3 linked regions of the Homo sapiens genome follow. The protein of the gene in region 2 purifies or fractionates together with the protein of the main gene of each other region. This does not show direct contact. Each region holds a gene or a part of one and is shown on either strand. Other genes may lie near its edges.

Region 1 (3,654 bases), on a different chromosome or scaffold from region 2:
TGAAGTGTGAAACATTCAACAGAAAGGGATAATGCTGATGTGAGGAGCGGAAAAGTGTTCTTGGGAAATGGCTTTGGAGATAAGCCCCATCACTCCTTCCTCTGTGATTAGCAACAAGAGACAAAGAGAAGCAATTTCTTCACTTGCCTGATTCAGACTAAGAAAACTCTAATATAGACTTAGGGCTTTCTTGGAAGTACAGAGAACTCATTTTTTTTTTAAAGGGTGTTGTCTTCTGGAGCTTATTGTTGCTGCTAATTTCATTATGACCCTGCAGAATAACCTCCCCTCATGTTTAATGAACGGATTAATTAATTAAACTATAGAACTAATTATTTGCCTTTTAGTTTCCTTTACTATTACGTTGCCCTTCTTCCTCTCCTCAGGTATTCTAAAGCATCTTGTGTTTCAGGAGAGCAGTGTTTTCTAACCATATTTCAGTCCTACCAGCTTCCTACTGATTTCCCACTACCCTCCGCCCACCCCGGCCCCCAAGCCAAAAAGGATAGAAGGAGAGCTCTGTTGTTCCCATGCAGAATATTAGCAGTGAGTCATTGGCCAAAAGAAGCCAGGGGTGAGGGTGCCATAGGTAATCTGACTCATCTTAGCAGTACCGTGAATCTCTCTTTGTTTGTCTTCTTATTTCAATAATAATTTTCCATGGAGTGGGCTAATTTTGGCCTAGGTTTACTTGAAATTGAATGGCAGCCAGTAAGTTTCAGCATTCAAATTTTGTGTAATGCTTAATGATATATGAGTAGAAGTTACTGACAATGTCTCATCCAACAAAAAGTTTAGTTAATAGTTTTAAAAGGGCTGGCCATGCAGGGTGGCTCATGCCTGTAATCCCAGCACTCTGGGAGGCCAAGGCTGGACTGCTTGAGTCCAGGAGTTTGAGACCAGCCTGGGCAACATAGCGAGACTCTATCTCTACAAAAAATTTTAAAAATTAGCCAGGCATGGTAATGCCCACCTGTAGTCCTAAGGGAGACTGAGGCAGGAGGATCCCATGAGCTCAGGAGTTCAAGGTTGCAGTGAGCTATGATCACATCACTGTGCTCCAGCCTGGGCAACAGAGCAAGAGCCTGTCTCTTAAAAAAAAAAAGGAAGGTGGTGGCAAAAACTACTATTTAATGATGGTCAAAAATAAAAAATAAAGATATTAGCAATTATAAATATTAATTGTGTTAAGTATCACTCCTTAACAAAGACCAGACCTAGACTGGAAGAAAATCAGAGAATGGAAGATGTTGACAAAAGAGGAACACTCATTATTTGTGCCTGTTAATGGAGAAGACATATACATTACTTGAATAATTTAAGTCTGAAAGGAAATGTGGAAAGTGAAGAGTGAAGGAAACCCCCCAGTTCATGGATAACTCAGAGAGTTTTTCAACATTCTGACAGCAGTGTAGAGCACTTACGATGAACTCCAGTGTTTTCTTAGGTCTCAAGAACAAATCCATAATTATCCACTTTTTTGGGAAGGATTTTGAAATTAATTTCCTGAGAATCGTCCTAAGGTGGTGTTTTAATATTCTAAGCATTTAAAATTGTTGAAACCTTAGATAAATGAAAATTACACTCTCTTGCAATTTTGCATTGTCCTATGTCAATAATACCAGGCACATTATAAACTTGAGACAGGGAAACAAAGCCAACCTAGGTGTTGTAAGGTCCTTGATGGTAACTCAAATTAAGTTTATACTTTACTGGAATTCTTTGAGATAAGCCAGAGTCCTTTGATATGAAAAAGAAAATCATCTTATAATTTGAAAATTAATGTTTCTAATGCCAAATAACAAAATTACATAGGCTAGATAACTGGTAGAAAAATAAGATGGATGGGTTGGGTGTGGTGGCTCATGTCTGTAATCCCAGCACTTCGGGAGGCTGAGGCGGGCAGATTACTTGAGTACAGGAGTTCAAGACCAGCCTGGGAGACATGGAGGAACTCTGTCTCTACAAAAAAAAAAAAATATATAAATATATATATATATATAAATCAGCCAGGGGTGATGGCACACACCGGTAGTCCCAGGAGGTAGAGGTTGCAATGAGCCGAGATGGCACACTGCACTCCAGCCTGGGCCACAGAGCAAAATCCCATCTCAAAAAAAAAAAAAAAAAAAAAAAAAGCCCTCAAGACAAAAAACCTCCTTCCTTAAAAAAAAAAAAAAAAGAAAAATATGATGGGTTTTAAAACATTAAGAAGATAGGGTTTTCTTATTGAATCACAAACTGAAGATATCACATATAAAGCAGTTAAAAAACTGGAGGAGAGGTACCATTGGCCATTAGTTTTTCAAAGCAGTGCTGACTTCTTAACTAAAGAGTATTATTTTGATGCAATCCCAGAAAACAGAGCTGTGCAGTCAGTGGCTTTGGTGATGGTGTTCATAAGGCACATGGTCAATTACAGCCATGGCAGTGAGGCACTGTAGCCTGTGTGCTGCCATTAAAGGGATCTACTGTTTTCCAGTATTTTATTCTGCAAAGATTTTCCAAAAAGTTTCTTGTCTCCAGAATAACTGCATTACATCTGGCAGAGAGTCATATGTTTTAAAGATCTGTTCATACAAAAGGACCTTCTTTTTGCAATCCTATTAATAGTCGTATTGCACAGCCTGCAATCATTTGCCGCAAAATACTTGGGAAGACTCTGGTACAATAATGATGTAATCTCTTCCACCTTAGTAGATAAAATTTAAAAATGGCACTAGCATGTAAACAAAATGGAATCCATAAATTAGAGAGGATTGGGCACCTGTTACTACAAGAAAATGAACATTTAAGGGATTATTAGAAAATATCTATTCAAAAGAATTTGTCACTGTGGTTTCCATTTTCCTTCCTCTTAATTATGAGTCAGTTTGTCAGCATTCACATCCATAAGAGATGCAGTATTTAACCCTGACTTTTGTTTACTCTTTATTCCAGAAGCCTCCCCAGCTTTCTGAGGATGATATCTGGCTAAAAAGCGAGGGAGACAACTATAGTGCCACCCTCCTGGAGCCTGCTGCCAGCTCTCTTTCCCCAGATCACAAAAACATGGAAATTGAGGTGTCTGTTGCAGAATGTAAAAGTGTTCCTGGAATCACCTCTACCCCACATCCCATGGACCATCCCTCCGCTTTCTATTCACCCCCGCATAATGGCCTCCTTACTGATCACCACGAATCCCTGGATAATGATGTTGCCAGAGAGATCCGCTATCTAGATGAGGTGCTAGAGGCCAACTGCTGTGATTCTGCTGTGGATGGAACGTACAATGGAACATCCTCCCCAGAGCCTGGTGCAGTGGTTCTGGTGGGCGGCCTAAGCCCCCCTGTCCACGAGGCGACCCAGCCAGAACCCACTGAAAGAACAGCTAGCCGGCAGGCACCTCCTCACATCGAGCTCAGTAATAGCAGCCCTGACCCCATGGCAGAGGCAGAAAGAACAAATGGCCATTCCCCCAGCCAGCCTAGAGATGCGCTGGGGGACAGCCTGCAGGTGCCTGTCAGCCCCAGCTCCACAACCAGCTCACGGTGTTCTTCCCGAGATGGAGAGTTCACTCTCACCACACTGAAAAAGGAGGCCAAGTTTGAGCTGCGTGCCTTCCATGAGGACAAGAAGCCCTCCAAGCTCTTTGAGGATGACGAGCATGAGAAA
Region 2 (3,654 bases):
TTCCAGGCCTCCCTCACCCTGATTTTATATCCCTCCAAGTCCTCAGATAATGCCATTTTCCCAGCTTCTCCCTGAGGAAGACACTGCTGACTACAGTTTTGGTCCCCACAAAGAGGCTGCCCCTGTTGGCTCCCAGGGGTCGTCGTGGTTACCTGGTAATGGGGGAGGTGGAGGGGGCAAGGGCGGAGCTGGTGGTGGAGGAAGAGGCAGGACCTCCTCAGGGGGTGGGGCTGGAGCCAGAAGGTCCAGGTCGGAGGGTGGCATGCCCTCACTCAGCTCTGCAGGGCCTACTCTGGCCAGGGCCTCACTGTCCACAGACTCCAGGCCCCGGACATTTGGCTCCAAATGACATCGACGCTGAAAGGCCTCCTCCTTCTCTTTAATGAGCCTCCGCAGGGTGTGCACCTGGTGGCTTGTGTTCTCATATGTCTCCTGGCAGGCAGACAGCACCATTAAGGGAAAAGTGGGCTGAAGGCATAGTCATTGCCCCAAGAGTGAGAATTCCTACCCAGGGTTCTCTTAACGAGGGTCTCTGTCAGGGTACTCAGAGGCTCAGAGTGGCAGAAACCCAGGTGGGGGAATGAGGAAGCTGGAAGGCAGCAAAACAAAAGAGGCAAGCAGAAGCTGCCTCCCTCCGCTGGCACCCTGAAGTGTCCTCTCTGCTCCAGCCAATTCTCACTGCATGGGCCCCTCAAAGCCCAGGAAAAAAGGTTGCCCCTGTGAAACTCTCCTTAATCTACCACCGGTCTGACATAGCGGCTCTCTCCATAACCCTTTGGGCCTCATTTTGCTTTAATTTCACTTGGCCTTGTATAATGGCTCAATTGGAAGCCCCCTATAAACAAGACCCTGTCTTAACCATCTCTGTATCCTCCATAGCTCCCAATACAATGCTCAGCAGAAGCTGGGCAGATACATATTGAGCTCAACAGAGCCAGCATATATTCTTCTGAAAGAGAAAGTAGGATGGGGGCATGACTTTATAATGAACAAAAAGTCAGGAGAAAATACAGAAGAGAATGAAATATGAAGAGTACCTGCCCTGCCAATTTAGGATACCTGGTGGACATCCTAATACACAGAGCACTTGGTCACTCTGCCCCTGCTCATTAAACATGGCTGGGGGAGGAACACGGGGGTAGAGGGGAGAAAAATCAATGGGATGGGCTGGTAGGAGGAGGCCTGGGTTGGAACTCCAGAATGCTTGTGGGTGCCCCAGCTGTTCCCACCCTCTTATGTGTGTGTCTGGCTCACACTGGCCCCACCTTTCCTCTCCAACTAAAAAAATGGGGTGAAATCATCAGCCCACCCACACCTGAGTACCTCAAGGGTGAATCAAGATCTAAATCCTAGAGAACTTGATATGACTCAGGGAAAAAAAGCAGAACCCCAAGGCGCTGGAGCCCAGGATCAGTCAGGGACTGCCTTCCCCAGAGTACTTGTACCTTGATGCTCTCTAGTTCCTTCTCCCGCTGTAGCAGCTGCTTCTCTAGTTCTGCCACCCGCATCATGTTTTCATTCTCTAGGTCCAGAAGCTTCTCTGTGAGCTGCACAACAGGAAGGGCAGGTTCTGTGCTGGCCCTAAAGCCTGGGCACTCAGCACAGCCTGAACCCTAGTCAAGACCTGAGTCGGACCCCTCAACACAAGGCCACAAAGGCAGCTTAGTCAGGTGGTTCCCTTATATTCCAATAACAGATACAAGACAAAGGCCACATTCTGACTGTCTCAAGACCAATGCCACCTCATGCCCAGCCCTGGAGGTCGATGTGTATTCCAACTGGTGGATGATCCAGTGGCTCAGGCCTGAGTATGCTCTTGAGAGCCCTGGTGGGTTCTAAAGCCTCCCTGGGACTCAATCTGGAGGCAAATGGGTCAGCTCAGGATTCCTGGTTACTTGAGCTTCCATCAACAGTGGCTCTGGCAGGCAAAGGAAGACCACCTACATGGGACACATGCTCCTCCAACTCCTCCACCTTCTCCAGGGCTACATTCTTGGTCTCAGCATCCTCCAACAAACCCCCGACATCAAACACGTTGTCCAGATATGCCTGAATCTGCACCTGCAGCTTCTCGCTCTCTGTGTGCCTTGACTTCTGGGGGAAGAGCAGAGAGTAGGAGTAGTTGTAGGAGCAGGCAGATCATCAGGGGAACTTTCTGAGAAAGTCTTAGTCCTCATCCCCCTTCGCCACCACTTCCCAAAGAGTTCCTGCTGCAGGCCATGTCAGATTCTCGCCCCCATGGAGCTGCCTGACTGGGGAGTTAGCTGCAGAGGTCCTGAGTCCCAGGCTACAGAAGACAGGCAGGGTCCCAGGAGCATCAAGGATTAGGCACTTATAAAAGAAAAATCATTTGTGATACGGCTAAACTGATCCCAAAGCACCTCACCTTACAAGGACCCCAGCCAGCTCACCTGCAGGAACTCCTCTAGCCCCAGCTTGGTAAACTCATACTGCAGGTGGACCCGGAAGTTCATGTCCTCCACCGAGTGCACCACGATGTTGATGAACTGCATGCAGGCCACCTGAAGAAGAGGAGGCCCAGAGAAGCAGCAACAGGAAGGGCAGAGGAAAGGCAAGAGACCAGGAGGATAGGCGGCTGTTAGAATATCATCATCATGTGGATAATTACAGGGAGTCAATTAAAGAGTTAAGTCTTTATGGGGGCAATAAGAGTATTTTAATTTTAAAAATGTCATTTAATATTCAGTGTATAAAGACAAGTAAATTACATGAAAAACAGATGTAAGTGAAGATATAGCTATCTGATTTCCTTTGTACATCAACAGGTATTCCTCGAGACAACCTTACCTAGCCAAAGACCCTGCAGTGAGGGGAAGAGAAGCTAGAGGAAGAGCTTAGGAAAGGGAGGGCAGCTCAAAAAGGATCCAATTCAAGGACAAAAAGGCCACAGAAAAGAGGAAAAGGAGGTAGATCTGATATACACAAATGATATCCTGAAGTTTCTAAGAGCTCTCTGGGGTAGGCAGGTGGACAAGAAGCATTTGCTGAATAGAATCATTCTGGGCTCTACGTGGAATATCAAGATACGCTGTTGGCCTCACCCCTGTTGTCAAGGAACACACACACAGCCCTGGTGGGTATGTGCTGGACCCAGGCCCAGTTCCTCACCATGAAGTCAATATTGCTGTCCTCATTCCGGAAATACTCCATCAGCTTCTCAAAGCGGTGCAGCTCCTTGCATACCTGAATGAGCAAACTTTCTCAGTGAAAGGATCTGCTCCATGCAGAACCCAAGCCCCTGCGCTCTGGCTCCTAGGAACATCATGGCAAAGGACTGGTTCAGACCAAGCTTAACCACAGCTCTATATATGAAATAGGCCATTCTGGACACTATAAAAGAAAACCTGGGGCCAGGCGCGGTGGCTCACACCTATAATCCCAGCACTTTGGGAGGCCGAGATGGGCACATCACCTGAGGTTAGGAGTTCAAGAACAGCCTGGGCAACATGGTGAAACCCCATCTCTACTCAAAATACAAAAATTAGCCGGGCATGGTGGCACATGCCTGTAGTCCCAGCTACTTGGGAGGCAGAGGCAGAAGAATCGCTTGAACCTGGGAGGTGGAAGTTGCAGTGAGCTGAGATTGTGCCACTGCACTCCAGCCTGGCCACAGAGTGAGACTCCATCTCAAAA
Region 3 (2,625 bases), on a different chromosome or scaffold from region 2:
CCTCTTTTTCAGCACGTACTCTCAATGTACTGTAATTAATTGTGGCTTTCTCTAGCTCCTGCAGACCTGAAGTGCAAGAGCCTGCTCTACCTTACTGATTTTTAGATTTCTAACTTCTGGGGCTGGTCTTTTGTCATTGATGTAACAAATATCTCCTCCACAGTGGTCCAGACCCAATCTTTGTCCAGGCTGGGGCTTTCAAAGATGATAAAGAGGGGTTGGGTGGGATCACAAAGAAATCTTGCGCAAATATACCTTGAACTAACATATATTGAAAAAAGCAGGACCTAACATTTCAAACTCACTGAAAATGGAGAAATGAGATGGTAAACTTTTTGGGCTTAGAGGTGTAGAAGCAGGAACTCTTAGGTAGGTGGGAAGGCTGCTCTGTCTAGTTGGTCTCTGCACTCAATGCAACCCAGGCTGGGTCTGGAGTCATTTACCCTCCTTGCCCTCTCCCCAGCTTTTCCTACTCTTGCCAAGAGGGAGAAACCAAGGAGCTCTGGTCATCAGGTCACCATCTCAAGGCCTGCCGAGCTGTGGCCTTCTCTGAAGATGGGCAGAGTGAGTACTGGGGAAGACAACCAGCAATGTGGTGGAAGGGAGCAGTGAGCAGCACCATGACCTGGGCACCTTTTCCCCAGAGCTCATTACTGTCTCCAAGGACAAAGCCATCCATGTTCTAGATGTGGAGCAGGGCCAACTGGAAAGACGTGTTTCCAAGGCTCATGGGTAAGGAGAGCAGCCAATTCTGTGTATGTGCATGGAGGTGAAGGGTAAGGACCAGGAGGTCCCCACTGGGACAGAGATGCTCCAAGAAGTTCTACATCTGTGTCTCTAGTGCCCCCATCAATAGTCTTCTGCTGGTGGATGAGAATGTTCTGGCCACTGGGGATGACACAGGTGGTATCTGTCTCTGGGACCAGCGGAAGGAGGGCCCCTTAATGGATATGAGGCAACATGAAGAGTACATCGCAGACATGGCTCTGGATCCAGCCAAAAAGCTGCTGCTGACAGCCAGGTACAACTTCAAAGCTGCCTTGCCTCCCCTCCCCTCCCTGTGTGAAATGTCTTCCTCAAATAGACCTTGCGTCTAAGCCTACTGCTCTACTCTCTACAGCGGGGATGGCTGCCTTGGCATCTTCAACATTAAGAGGCGTCGGTTTGAGCTGCTCTCAGAACCTCAGTCTGGGGACCTGACCTCTGTCACTCTCATGAAAGTACAGCTGGTTATGGTGGGATGGAGGGGTGTGTGCTGGGGGCTTAGTCTGAGGCAGCTTCCACATTGTTTTCTCTATTTCCCTGCAGTGGGGGAAGAAGGTAGCCTGTGGCTCCAGTGAAGGTACCATCTACCTCTTCAATTGGAATGGCTTTGGGGCCACAAGTGACCGCTTTGCCCTGAGAGCTGAATCTATCGACTGCATGGTTCCAGTCACCGAGAGTCTGCTGTGTACTGGCTCCACTGATGGAGTCATCAGGTGAGGGAAGCCTGGACAGCCCTTAGGTCACAGGAAGGGCAGACCCAGCTAGCCAGTACTCAACACTGTTCTTTCCCTGCCCAGGGCTGTGAACATCCTACCGAACCGAGTGGTGGGCAGTGTGGGCCAGCACACTGGGGAGCCTGTGGAGGAGCTGGCCCTCTCCCACTGTGGCCGCTTCCTGGCCAGTAGTGGCCATGACCAGCGCCTCAAGTTTTGGGACATGGCCCAGCTGCGAGCTGTGGTGGTGGATGACTACCGTCGGCGCAAAAAAAAGGGAGGACCACTGCGGGCTCTGAGCAGCAAGACTTGGAGCACCGATGACTTCTTCGCAGGACTGAGGGAAGAGGGAGAAGACTCCATGGCTCAGGAAGAAAAGGAGGAGACTGGGGATGACAGTGACTGAAGGAATGAATTGAATCTTGAGACGGGTCCTCACCAGGCAAGAGTCTTGCTTATTGGGCTGCATCCCCAGAGAGGATATGAATTATTTTTTGAAAAGACAGGGTTTTGCCATCGTCCAGGCTGGAGTGCGCTGGCTTGATCTTGGCTCACTGCAGCCTCAATGTCCCCAGGCTCAGATTGTCCTTCCACCTTAGCCTCTGGAGCAGCTGGGACTACAGGTGTGCACTACCACACCAGGCCAATTTTTGTTTTTTTTTTTTGGTAGAAACGGGTCTGTTTTGCCCAGGCTGGTCTTCAACTCCTGGACTCAAATGATCCACCTGCCTCTGCTTCCCAAAGTGCTGGGATTACAGGCACGAGCCACCACACCTGGCCAAAAAAATTTATATTTTTTGAGACAAGGTCTCACTCTGTCACCCAGGCTGGAGTACAGTGGGTTGATCATGGCTCACTGCATCCTTGACTTCCTGGGCTCAAGTGATCCACCTCAGCCTGCCTGGTAGCTGAGACTTAACAGGCATCTGCCACCATGCTTGACTAATTTTTGTGATTTTTTTTTGGTAGAGACCAGGGGTTTCACTATGTTGACCAAGCTGGTCTTGGAACTCCTGGGCTCAAGTGATCCTCCTGCCTTGGCCTCCCAAAATGCTGGGATTACAGGCATGAGCCACTGTGCCTGGCTGGATATGAAATTTTTTTTTTTTTTTTTTTTGAGACAGGGTTTCGCTCTTGTTGCCAGGGC

What was found.
Region 1: the proteins of FMNL3 (region 2) and PALM2AKAP2 purify together in Homo sapiens (affinity purification with mass spectrometry; one large-scale study listed by BioGRID and IntAct). This does not show direct contact.
Region 3: the proteins of FMNL3 (region 2) and WDR55 purify together in Homo sapiens (co-immunoprecipitation; one large-scale study listed by IntAct). This does not show direct contact.

What each region holds. Positions count from the first base shown.
Region 1 is NC_000009.12:110,133,187-110,136,840, forward strand, and holds part of PALM2AKAP2 (PALM2-AKAP2 protein isoform 3 (PALM2-AKAP2)), read left to right. Parts: intron 1-2,940; coding exon 2,941-3,654. UniProt on the Homo sapiens protein: Binds to regulatory subunit (RII) of protein kinase A. May be involved in establishing polarity in signaling systems or in integrating PKA-RII isoforms with downstream effectors to capture, amplify and focus diffuse, trans-cellular signals carried by cAMP.
Region 2 is NC_000012.12:49,651,781-49,655,434, forward strand, and holds part of FMNL3 (formin-like protein 3), read right to left. Parts: intron 3,205-3,654; coding exon 3,130-3,204; intron 2,523-3,129; coding exon 2,412-2,522; intron 2,095-2,411; coding exon 1,945-2,094; intron 1,548-1,944; coding exon 1,446-1,547; intron 433-1,445; coding exon 153-432; intron 1-152. UniProt on the Homo sapiens protein: Plays a role in the regulation of cell morphology and cytoskeletal organization. Required in the control of cell shape and migration. Required for developmental angiogenesis.
Region 3 is NC_000005.10:140,667,771-140,670,395, forward strand, and holds part of WDR55 (WD repeat-containing protein 55), read left to right. Parts: intron 1-463; coding exon 464-564; intron 565-644; coding exon 645-732; intron 733-841; coding exon 842-1,021; intron 1,022-1,120; coding exon 1,121-1,220; intron 1,221-1,308; coding exon 1,309-1,478; intron 1,479-1,562; coding exon 1,563-1,884; 3' UTR 1,885-2,625. UniProt on the Homo sapiens protein: Nucleolar protein that acts as a modulator of rRNA synthesis. Plays a central role during organogenesis.